2 separate regions of the Homo sapiens genome follow, and region 2 is linked to region 1. Evidence: fine-mapped expression QTL. Tissue or cell type: whole blood. Region 1 holds a variant in brackets; the other region holds the start of a gene. All regions are shown on one strand. Distances are from middle to middle.

Evidence for each region. PIP is the estimated chance that this variant, and not a neighbour inherited with it, causes the effect.
Region 2: it holds the start of CHD4, and the variant in region 1 is fine-mapped to the expression of CHD4 in whole blood (TOPMed, PIP 0.99).

What each region holds. Positions count from the first base shown.
Region 1 is chr12:6,624,789-6,629,981 of GRCh38, forward strand. All of the region lies in intron 1 of LPAR5 (lysophosphatidic acid receptor 5), which reads right to left. LOC105369631 (a long non-coding RNA gene) reads left to right here. Exons shown (of 4, transcript XR_007063192.1): 4 at 1,901-1,978. Among named protein-coding and RNA genes, the nearest start is that of LPAR5, 8.6 kb to the right of the region's middle. The variant T/C (reference allele first, on the strand shown) is at 2,889.
Region 2 is chr12:6,604,796-6,609,903 of GRCh38, forward strand. It overlaps CHD4 (chromodomain helicase DNA binding protein 4), which reads right to left and starts at 2,584. Exons shown (of 40, transcript NM_001273.5): 1 at 2,505-2,584; 2 at 1,479-1,656. The coding sequence starts at 1,578. LOC124902867 (a long non-coding RNA gene) reads left to right here and starts at 1,091. Exons shown (of 2, transcript XR_007063193.1): 1 at 1,091-1,200; 2 at 4,320-4,515. RefSeq lists enhancers at 1,155-1,314, 3,055-3,204 and silencers at 1,665-1,714, 1,895-1,954, 2,365-2,464.

The DNA.
Region 1 (5,193 bases):
TTTGTATTTTTAGTAGAGACGAGGTTTCTCCCTGTTGGTCAGGCTGGTCTCGATCTCCTGACCTCAGGTGATCCACCCGGCTCGGCCTCCCAAAGTGCTGGGATTACAGATGTGAGCCACCGCACCTGGCCTGGAATTTCATTTTTATAGCTGAATAATGTATTTCATTGTATAATGTTTTGCTCATCCATTCATCTGTCAGTGAATACTTGGATTCTTTCCACCTTTTGGCTATTGTGAATAATGCCACTGTGAACATGGGTGTCTAGATGTCATCTTAGGGAGAGAAGTTGTCTGAGACCCTGAGCAATTATCCCAAGACACCGAGCTTATTACTTTCAAAAGGAACTGTTTAGGCCGGGCGTGGTGGTTCACGCTGGTAATCCCAGCACTTTGGGAGGCCGAGGCAGGCGGATCACGAGGTCAGGAGATTGAGACCATCCTGGCTAACACGGTGAAATCTCGTCTCTTTTAAAAATGCAAAAAATTAGCCGGGCGTGGTGGCAGGCGCCTGTAGTCCCAGCTACTCAGGAGGCTGAGGCAGGAGAATGGCATGAACCCGGGAGGCGGAGCTTGCAGTGAGCCGAGATTGAGCCACTGCACGCCAGCCTGGGCAACAGAGACTCCGTCTCAAAAAAAAAAAAAAAAGAGGGCCGGGCGCGGTGGCTCATGCCTGTAATCCCAGCACTTTAGGAGGCCAAGGCGGGCGGATCACAAGGTGAGGAGATCGAGACCATCCTGGCTAACATGGTGAAACCTCGTCTCTACTGAAAATACAAAAAAATTTAGCTGAGCGTGGTGGTGGGCGCCTGTAGTCCCAGTTACTCAGGAGGCTGAGACAGGAGACTGGCGGGAACCCGGGAGGCAGAATTTGCACTGAGCCGAGTTCACGCCACTGCATTCCAGCCTGGGCGACAGTGAGACTCCGTCTCAAAAAAAAAAAAAGGAACTGTTTAAATTGTTGCAAGAAAATAAGTCATAAATCTGGCTATAACAAGTTTTTTGTTTGTTTTTTGTTTTTTGTTTTTTTTGAGACAGGGTCTCACTCCGTGGTCCAGGCTGGAAAGCAGTGGCTCGATCTTGGCCCACTGCAGTCCTGAACTCCCAGATTCAAGTGATCCTCTTACCTCAGTCTCTGAGTAGTTGGACCTACAGGCGTGTGCCACCATCCCTGGCTAATTTTTAAATTTTTTGTAGATGGCCAGGGGCAGTGGCTCATGCCTGTAATCCTAGCACTTTGGGAGGCTGAGGTGGGTGGATCACTTGAGGTCAGGAGCTCGAAACCAGCCTAGCCAACATGGTGAAACCTCGTCTCTACTAAAAATACAAAAAAATAGCCAGGCATAGTGGCAGGTGCCTGTAATCCCAGCTACCCGGGAGACTGAGTCAGGAGAATCGCTTGAACCCAGGAGGCAGACAGAGGTTGCAGTGAGCTAAGATCGCGCCACTGCACTCCAGCCTGGGCAACAGAGCAAGACTCCATCTCAAAAAAAGAAAAAATTTTTTCATAGAAACGGGGTCTGACTGTGTTGCCCAGGCTGGTCTTAAACTCAGGCTCAAGCAATCCTTTTGCCCTGGGCTCTGTAAGTCCTAGGATTACAGGCATGAGCCACTGTACCTGGCCACAAGTTTTTCTTGTATTTGGTTTTGTTCTCCTTCCAACCACCACCATCAGCAGTTTGAGACTTGTAAGAGATATAGTAAAACAGTTAAAGGGAATAAAGAAATACTTCCTCTGCAAAATACCAGTCTCAACAATGAAAATAATACCAAATGAGACTTAAACATGCTGAAAAGCAAGTAAAACCAGGCTCATTTCTGATACACTCCCCTGCTCCATGCTCCTTTGCTCCATTCACACCAAACTAATACTAATTGTGGACATACCTTATGTTTTCAGGACTCTGCCTTTGTATGTGGTGTTTCTTCAACTTGGAATGCCCTGCCTCCCGTTCTCCAACTGGCAAGCCTAGTATTTTCTCAGGACTCTGCAAAGCCTTCCCTAACCGCCCCCGCAACACAAGGCGGATGTGGTACCCTCACTTGTGCCTCCGCAACAGTGCGCAGGTTTATCAGAGCTCTCCCCATGCATGGTAGTCAGCTGTTCCTGGTCTGCCCCTCCCATTAGACTGTGAACTCTTAGAGGGAGGGGCTGTGGACCATGGCTTATTCATCTTTGTGTATTCTCAGCACCTACCTCTGTAAATGTTAAAAATAATAGGTATCATTTACTGATCATCACCATATTTTAATTTCTATACATAATATCTAACATAGATACATTATTTCACTTCCTCATTGTCCAACTGAAATGTATAAAGTGGGTTATTTGAAGTGGGTTATTAAAAATAACCACTTCCAAAAGTGGTGACATAAACTCATCTTTCACACATACACATAAATATGCCTCCTTGAATCACTTGAACCCAAGAGGCGGAGGTTGCAGTGAACGAAGATCATGCCACTGCACTACAGTTTGGGCAACAGAGTGAGACTCCGTCTAAATAAAAATAAGTAAATAGACCGGGAATGGTGGCTCACGCCTGTAATCCCAGCACTTTGGGAGGCCGAGGCAGGCGTATCACGAGGCCAGGAGTTCGAGACCAGCCTGGCCAACATGGTGAAACCTCGTCTCTACTAAAAATACAAACAATTAGCCGGGCGAGGTGGCAGGTGCCTGTAATCCCAACTACTCGGGAGGCTGAGGCAGGAGAATTGCTTGAACCCAAGGGGCGGAGGTTGCAGTGAGCAGAGATCGTGCCACTGCACTCCAGCTTGAGTGACAAAAGCGAAACTCCATCTCAAAAAAATAAATAAACCTCCTTAAAATTCCCCCTTAAGTGCATACGTAAGCACTTAGTTTGCTGTTTTGAGCCCCTCAATCGTTT[T/C]ATGTATATTTGTTCTATTTCCCCAACTAGATGGTAAGCTCCTAGGGTGGGAGCGCACCTTGCAGACACATTTCACTCTCTGCATTTAGCAGGTCCTGAGCGATACTCATTGGCTGCTTAACAGGAAATCCACCCTCCCCACCTCCTACACCCATCCCGCCCCCAACTACCCCCGCCCACGCTCTAATCCTGTGATAATAGCTCTTGTATCAATCTTGTCCAAATGTATAACTCAGTAAAAGACCACTTCCCTTAAAAGACCTGTTTGGAAACAGCTTGCAAACAAGATTTCAATAACAGTTTACACTATGATTACAGTATCACTTGATCATTCTTTTCTTTTTCTTTTTTCTTTTTTTTTTTGAGACAGAGTCTTGCTCTGTCGTCCGGGCTGGAGTGCAGTGGCTCAATCTGGGCTCACTGCAAGCTCTGCCTCCCGGGTTCACGCCATTCTCCTGCCTCAGCCTCCCGAGTAGCTGGGACTACAGGCACCTGCCACCTCACCCGGCTAATTTTTTGTATTTTTAGTAGAGCTGGGGTTTCACTGTATTAGCCAGGATGGTCTCTATCTCCTGACCTCGTGATCTGCCCGCCTTGGCCTCTCAAAGAGCTGGGATTACAGGCGTGAGCCACCGCGCCAGGCCCACTTGATCATTCTTAACCATTACTTGGAGAACCAGTAGATCCTTCCAATTAGAAAGCATATACTAGACACTGAATGAGTGGATGGATGATTTTCAAAGAACCTCAAGTCTGTCTTTCTTTCTTTCCTTCCTTCCTTCCTTCCTTTTCTTTTTTGAGATGGAGTTTCGCATGCTCTGTCACCCAGGCTGCAGTGAAGTGGCAGAATCTCGGCTCACTGCAACCTCCGCCTCCCGGGTTCAAGTGATTCTCCTGCTTCAGCCTCCTGAATAGCTGAGATTACAGGCGCTCACCACCACGCCCAGCTAATTTCTTTTTTTTTTTTTTTTTTGAGATGGAGTTTCACTTTTGTTGCCCAGACTGGAGTGCAATGGCACGATCTCCGCTCACCGCAACCTCTGCCTCCCAGGTTCAAGCGATTCTCCTGCCTCAGCCTCCTTAGTAGCTGGGATTACAGGCATGTGCCACCACGCCCAGCTAATTTTGTATTTTTAGTAGAGATGGGGTTTCTCCATGTTGGTCAGGCTGGTCTCGAACTCCCAACCTCAGGTGATCTGCCCGCCTCAGCCTCCAAAAAATGCTGGGATTACAGGCGTGAACCACCATGCCCGGCCAATTTCTGTATTTTTAGTAGAGAAGACTGGGTTTCACTATGTTGGCCAGGCTGGTCTCGAACTCCTGACCTCAGGTAATCCGCCTGCCTTGGCCTCCCAAAGTGCTGGGATTACACTGTGCCTGGCTGATCTCAAGTCTTTCTGTTGAAAAAGTTACAATGTACCGGGCACGGTGGCTCACGCCTGTAATCCCAGCACTTTGGGAGGCCGAGGTGGGCGGATTACCTGAGGTCAGGAGTTCGAGACCAGCCTGGCCAACATGGTGAAACCTCATCTCTACTGAAAATACAAAAATTAGCCAGGGGTGGTGGCACACGCCTGTAATCCCAGCTACTCGGGAAGCTGAGGCAGGAGAATTGCTTGAGCCCGGGAGACGGAGGTTGCAGTGAGCCGAGATCGTGCCACTGCACTCCAGCCTGGCCAACAGAGCGAGACTCTGTCTCAAAAAAAAAAAAAAAAGGGCCAAGCGCGGTGGCTTACACCTGTAATCCCAGCACTTTGGGAGGCCAAGGTGGGTGCATCATGAGGTCAGGAGACCAAGACCATCCTAGCTAACATGGTGAAAGCCCATCTCTACTAAAAATACAAAATATTAGCCGAGCTTGGTGGCACCTGCCTGTAATCCCAGCTACTCGGGAGGCTGAGGCAGGAGAATCGCTTGAACCCGGGAGGCAGAGGTTGCAGTGAGCCGAGATTGCGCCACTGCACTCCAGCCTAGATGGCAGAGTGAGACTCCGTCAAAAAAAAAAAAAAATTAAAATGTTAAATAGACCAAGATTATTAGTTGAGCGGCTACTTAAAGGTAAAGTTAGGCGAAGTGATGGCTCACACCTGTAATCCCAGCACTTTGGGAGGCTGAGGCGGGCGGATCACCTGAGGTCAGGCATTCAAAACCAGCCTGGTCAACATAGTGAAAACCCCATCTCTACTAAAAATACAAAAATTAGCCAGGCATGGTGGCGGCATCTGTAATCCCAGCTACTCGGGAGGCTGAGGCAGGAGAATCCCTTGAACCCAGGAGGCGGAAGTTGCAGTGAGCTGAGATCGCG
Region 2 (5,108 bases), 20 kb before region 1:
CAGCTCAGGACAGAGTTCACAGCTCCTGCGCAGCTCCCGGTCAACATGAAAGGCAGCCCCAGCCCAAGTGGCCAATGGGAGGCCAAGACGTGGAACCCAGAATGTTTAGGCAGCACTACTGTTTCTCATGCCCCTCTCAGAAGGACAGGGTCCCCTTACCAGCACCACAACTCCGCCCTCACCTTGGGCAAGGGCATGGAAATCTGCCCCCTACTCTACACAAGGATGAAACCAAGTTTCTCATCCCAACAGCCCAGACTCCATGACAACACTAACCCCTCTCCTAAATGGCCTCAGGTTGAAGTGAAGAATTCCAACTTAAAAAGTGCCAAATGTGAAAGCATCTCTCCCAGACCACCTCAACTTCCACTGAAGCTAAGAAGAGAGAAGGCAGAAGTGAATGATGCTGGATGAGAAACAAAAACAGGATCAGCAGGCTCCAGAATGAGAAGAAAACTAGAAGCAGAAGGAATGAAGAAATGACATGTAGAAAAAAAAATTAAACTAGAAAACATGAAGGTCAAGGAGATGAGTAGGTGACACAGCTAGGGGCTCTGAAAAAGGACACAGAAGAGAAAGACATCTGCTTAGGGGCATGACATCAACCATCATTTGAGGATAGACAACAGTTCCCCCAATCAGACAGGGTGGTTACAACCATACGGGTTTGGCCAGTTCATGAAGCCACCCCAAAACACAGATAGCGTAACCCCTAGCACACCTACACAGACACTTCACACTGCCAGCCTAAACCGCAGGCTACCTCATAGAGACAGAAGCCACTAGGAAAAAAGCCAAAACTATGTCCACTCACCAGGAGGAGGAGTGCCCTCCCTTCTTTTGCCCCTCTTCACTAGGCTATTACATCCTCCCCGAGCCCCCATCACTTCCCCACTCAAAACATTCCAGCAATCTGCCTGGCTGCTTTAAGCACTCCAGATCCTGCTGAGGAGCGCGATTCAAACTTCACACAGTTCAGACAGCACAGAAAACCGGTAACCGATCAGAAGCTAAAAATAATCAGATAGAGTGTAACCAGCACTCCCTCTTTCCTTTCCACAGCAGCAACCACAGGATCCTACTAGCACAGATGCCCGGCTGGTCTTTCAAACAGAATCCTCAACGCCCCCCTCCACCACCACCACCACAAGCCTCCAGGGGTCCCAGCTACCTGCATTCCTCCGAGGACCCACATACCAGGTAATGCCTGCCAGCCCAGAGAGCTCCCTCAACTGGGAACTGCAGAGCATTCCTCAAGACAGAGTGCAGCAAGCTGGCATCTCCGTGCCCAGGAGGCACATGGCTTCCACCCCCCTCACACCAGAGCTCCGCAGAAGGGAACCACTCCCTTCGGATACCCTCCACCTCCGGCTCTGCACAGAGACAGCGGAGCAACACAGCCCTGCCTCACCAGAGGAGTCACTCGGGAGAGCCCCAGATGTCTCCTTCCCGCCATGGGCCCTTGGGGAAGATGTTACCTGGGTGGGGTGGGGGCAGGCTGTTGTTCAAAAGTGCATCCATATCCTCCTCCTCACTGCCCGCCGAGCAGGGGGACGGGGAGCCCAGGCCCGACGCCATCCCCTTCCGCTCCCGGCCAGGGAATTGGCCCAGCTGCTCCTGCCGGCGGCCTGAGGACCTCTACACTGGCCCGAGTCACTGTGCGGGGGAGGGGGGAGAAACACAGAACAGTCAGTGACGCGCACTGTCCCCCTCCCCCACACCCACCCGCTCTTTCCGCCCCCCACCCCAGCCACCCTAGCAGGGCACCCGAACCGCTCAGGCTGAACTTAGTTCCACACTCCTCGGGGGCAGCCCGGAAGCCGGCTCCCCGGCAGGCGCCCCCACGGAGCGAGGGAGCGACGCCTCCGAGGGCAGGCTGGTGCAAGCGCGGGGAGGGGAGACGCGGGGCTGGACCGAGCGGGGTGTGACGGGGGAGGGGGTCCGAGTGGCAGCGGCGCGGGGGGGCCAGGGGAGGCCGCAGGCGGCGAGGCGCTCGGGGACACAAGGTCACTTGGGGGTGGGGGGGCGCCTCCCTGCGCCCGGGGAGGGGCCAGTCCCCAGACAGGGCAGCTCTCCAAAGGCTGTCCTCTGGGACAACTCAGGTTCTCCTCAAGAGCTGCGGGGACGAGGGGGCGTGGAGGCTCGGGCGCTGCGGGGGGCCGGAGGCAGGGACGCGGGGGGCGAAAGCGTCCCACCGGGAAGGGGGCCGGGCCACGTGTCCCGGGGGGCAAGTGATCAAAGGGCGAGGGGGTGGGCGCCGGGCATTGTGGGAGACCAAGCCGGAGGCGGGGGGTCGCGGGGAGCAAGACTCCGGCAGGGTTAGGGCGGGGGCTGGGGAGGAGGCCGGGCGCCCTGCAGGGCCAGGAAAGGAAGGGTCGGCTCCTCTGGGCAAGGGGCGGTCCGCGGGTCCGGAGACGCCTGAGGAAGGGGCGGGTGACGGGATGACCCTCGGGGCTGGTAGGGCCGTGAGGGGCGTCTCTTTGGGAACCCCGCGCTCTCCTCACCCCGGAGCCGCCGCAGGTCGCGCTGGGTCCGGCTCGGTGTCACTCCCGCTCCGGCTCCTCCTCGCCGCGGCCGAAGGGGGGAAAATGGCTCCGGCTCCAGCGTCGCCTCTTAAAGGGCCTGAAACACCGGCCGGGAAATCCCACCGCACAGGCCCCGCCCCCCCACGGACAGCCCATAATAACCTCAACCAACTCCAACCCCCCCCTTCCACTACCGCCACCCTCCTCCCCAGGTCTCCCGGGCAACCCCCGCCCCCTCGTCGCTCAGGCAACCACTGGCCACGCCCCCTTCGCAGCGGGCGCGCGCGCGTCACCTGGGCAACCGCCCACCTCCTGGCCATCCCATAATACACACGGACACCCCCCCCCCCAACACACACACACACACACACACACACACACACACACACACACACAACACACACACACCCTGCCCCCCCACATTTCATACACATATGCCAGAGACTGCTGACATCTCAAAATATTGCAGACCTTTTGCAACTAACCCTCTTAGACATCCCATAATAGACATCCTTTGCCAACTTCTTCTTCACTCTTGGACCTAATGCTAACATCCCATAATAATTCATCACCCCTCCCTCCCCATGGCCATCCCATAATAAGCACCCCTCGCAGCACTTATGCCTCATATCCCATAATATTCAGCCCCATCCCCCACAGACATCCCATAATAACCATCCTTCATCCACCCCCAGTTTGATATCCCATAATAGTCAGAAACTCACCCCCCCCCATACTACAACAACGGACACTCGGCCTCCTCCCACACACATCCCGTAATAATCAGTCTCCCACTTTCTATACTGACATCCCATAATAACTAACCCCCTAGAGCTGCCCTCAGTCCCTGCAGGCCAGGGTCTAGAGGCTCACATCACCCCCAGCCTTCCCTCTTCTAGCTCCACAGCCTATAGTAAGTACCCCTCCTCTATCAAAAAGATAACCCATAATGATCAACAGCCCTACTGTCGCCCCACAGATGGACATCTAATCTCTTTTCCTCTAACACTGGAAAGCTATCCCATAATAATTTTACTCTCCTACCCACATCCTGACATCCCATAATAATTGCAAGGAGCCCGTGGTCAACCAAACATACCATAATACTCCCAACACAACCCAGTGTCACATCCCATAATGCTTCATCTCCACTCTACCACCCCTATACCCTTCGAGCCAGGCATCCCATAATATTCATATTCTTCCCACCCCCATCTCCAGGCGCTGTCAGTCTATTCTAACACCCAGAGCAGGGAGGGCCAGGCAGGCTACCCACGCTTCCTTGTCCCCGCCCCCACTTGCACACACCTTAATCCCTTTCTGGGCCAAAGTAGTATCCTGGCAAAAAGCCTCCTGATGTCTGGGACCCCAGCTTCCCTCATACCATCATTTCCAGACACTCGGGGGCTGGGAGCCCACCTAGGGCCCCACCCAGTCCCACCAAAATCTAGGTATTTTCCAGATGCTTACCTCCAGCTCCTAAGTTTTGAGGAACACCAACCAACCAAAATACCAAGCTGACAGATGAAACATTTACATGAAGTCTAATTCACCCTACAGCATCCCATAATAATTACCAACTCCCATCCAAAGACTATCTCTCAACATTCTAGCAATCCTCCCCCTCACCACATCCCCAGGTCAGGGATCTTTCACCAACACCCCCAGGCCATTCCTGGGGATGGACATCCCATCACGATGTGAACTCAGGTTCCTGCTCTATACACACCAAGAGTGAAGGCCTGCCCTCCCGCTACTCACCACTACTCATGTTCATTCAACCTGTGTTGACAGAGTACCTAGCAAGGCCGAGCTCCGCACCATGGAGAATCAAGGAAGACCAGGGGGCCTCCCTTCAAAAAGCATAAGCAACCAAGCAAACTATGATACACGACAGAATGGTGCCAAGGGAGAACTGCTGAGCACTGTTTCCCAATTTCCTGTTACAGAAAATAAAATCCCACTGGTTCCAAGAGAGAACATATCCCAATAAGATTTATCGTGGTCCTTCTAGAGGCTGGAAGATGATACTTAAAGGATTTATGGGTATAGACCATAGTCAACATGATCTCCTATCTGTTCCCTACTTACTAGGGGATTTTTCTTGGAAAGCAATGTTCATCCATCCAGCATTCCTAATACTGAAATCCTATAATATGTTCATGTCCTTCCTTCTTAAGAGACTCCACAATATACCAGCATTGTTTCCCTCATTCTTGAACACCAAATCCTGCTTATCCTCAATGTCCCATATTTTTCAGGCACTTTCCCATTTTATATCCTGAAGTCTCATAGTATCTCCAATGGCCTCCATCCTCATCTTGTTGGGGCCACATTCTCCACCTCAAAAAAAAAAAAATCTTTAGTTGTATAATGTTCCCCATCTTCCCCTGCCTGTATAGAAGTCAATATTCCAGCGGGGCATGGTGGCTCATGCCTGTAATCCCAGCACTTTGGGAGGCCAAGGCAGGTGGATCACAAGGTCAGGAGTTCAAGACCAGCCTGGCCAAAATGGTGAAACCCCGTCTCTACTAAACATACAAAAATTAGCCTGACATGGTGGCACGTGCCTGTAATCCTAGC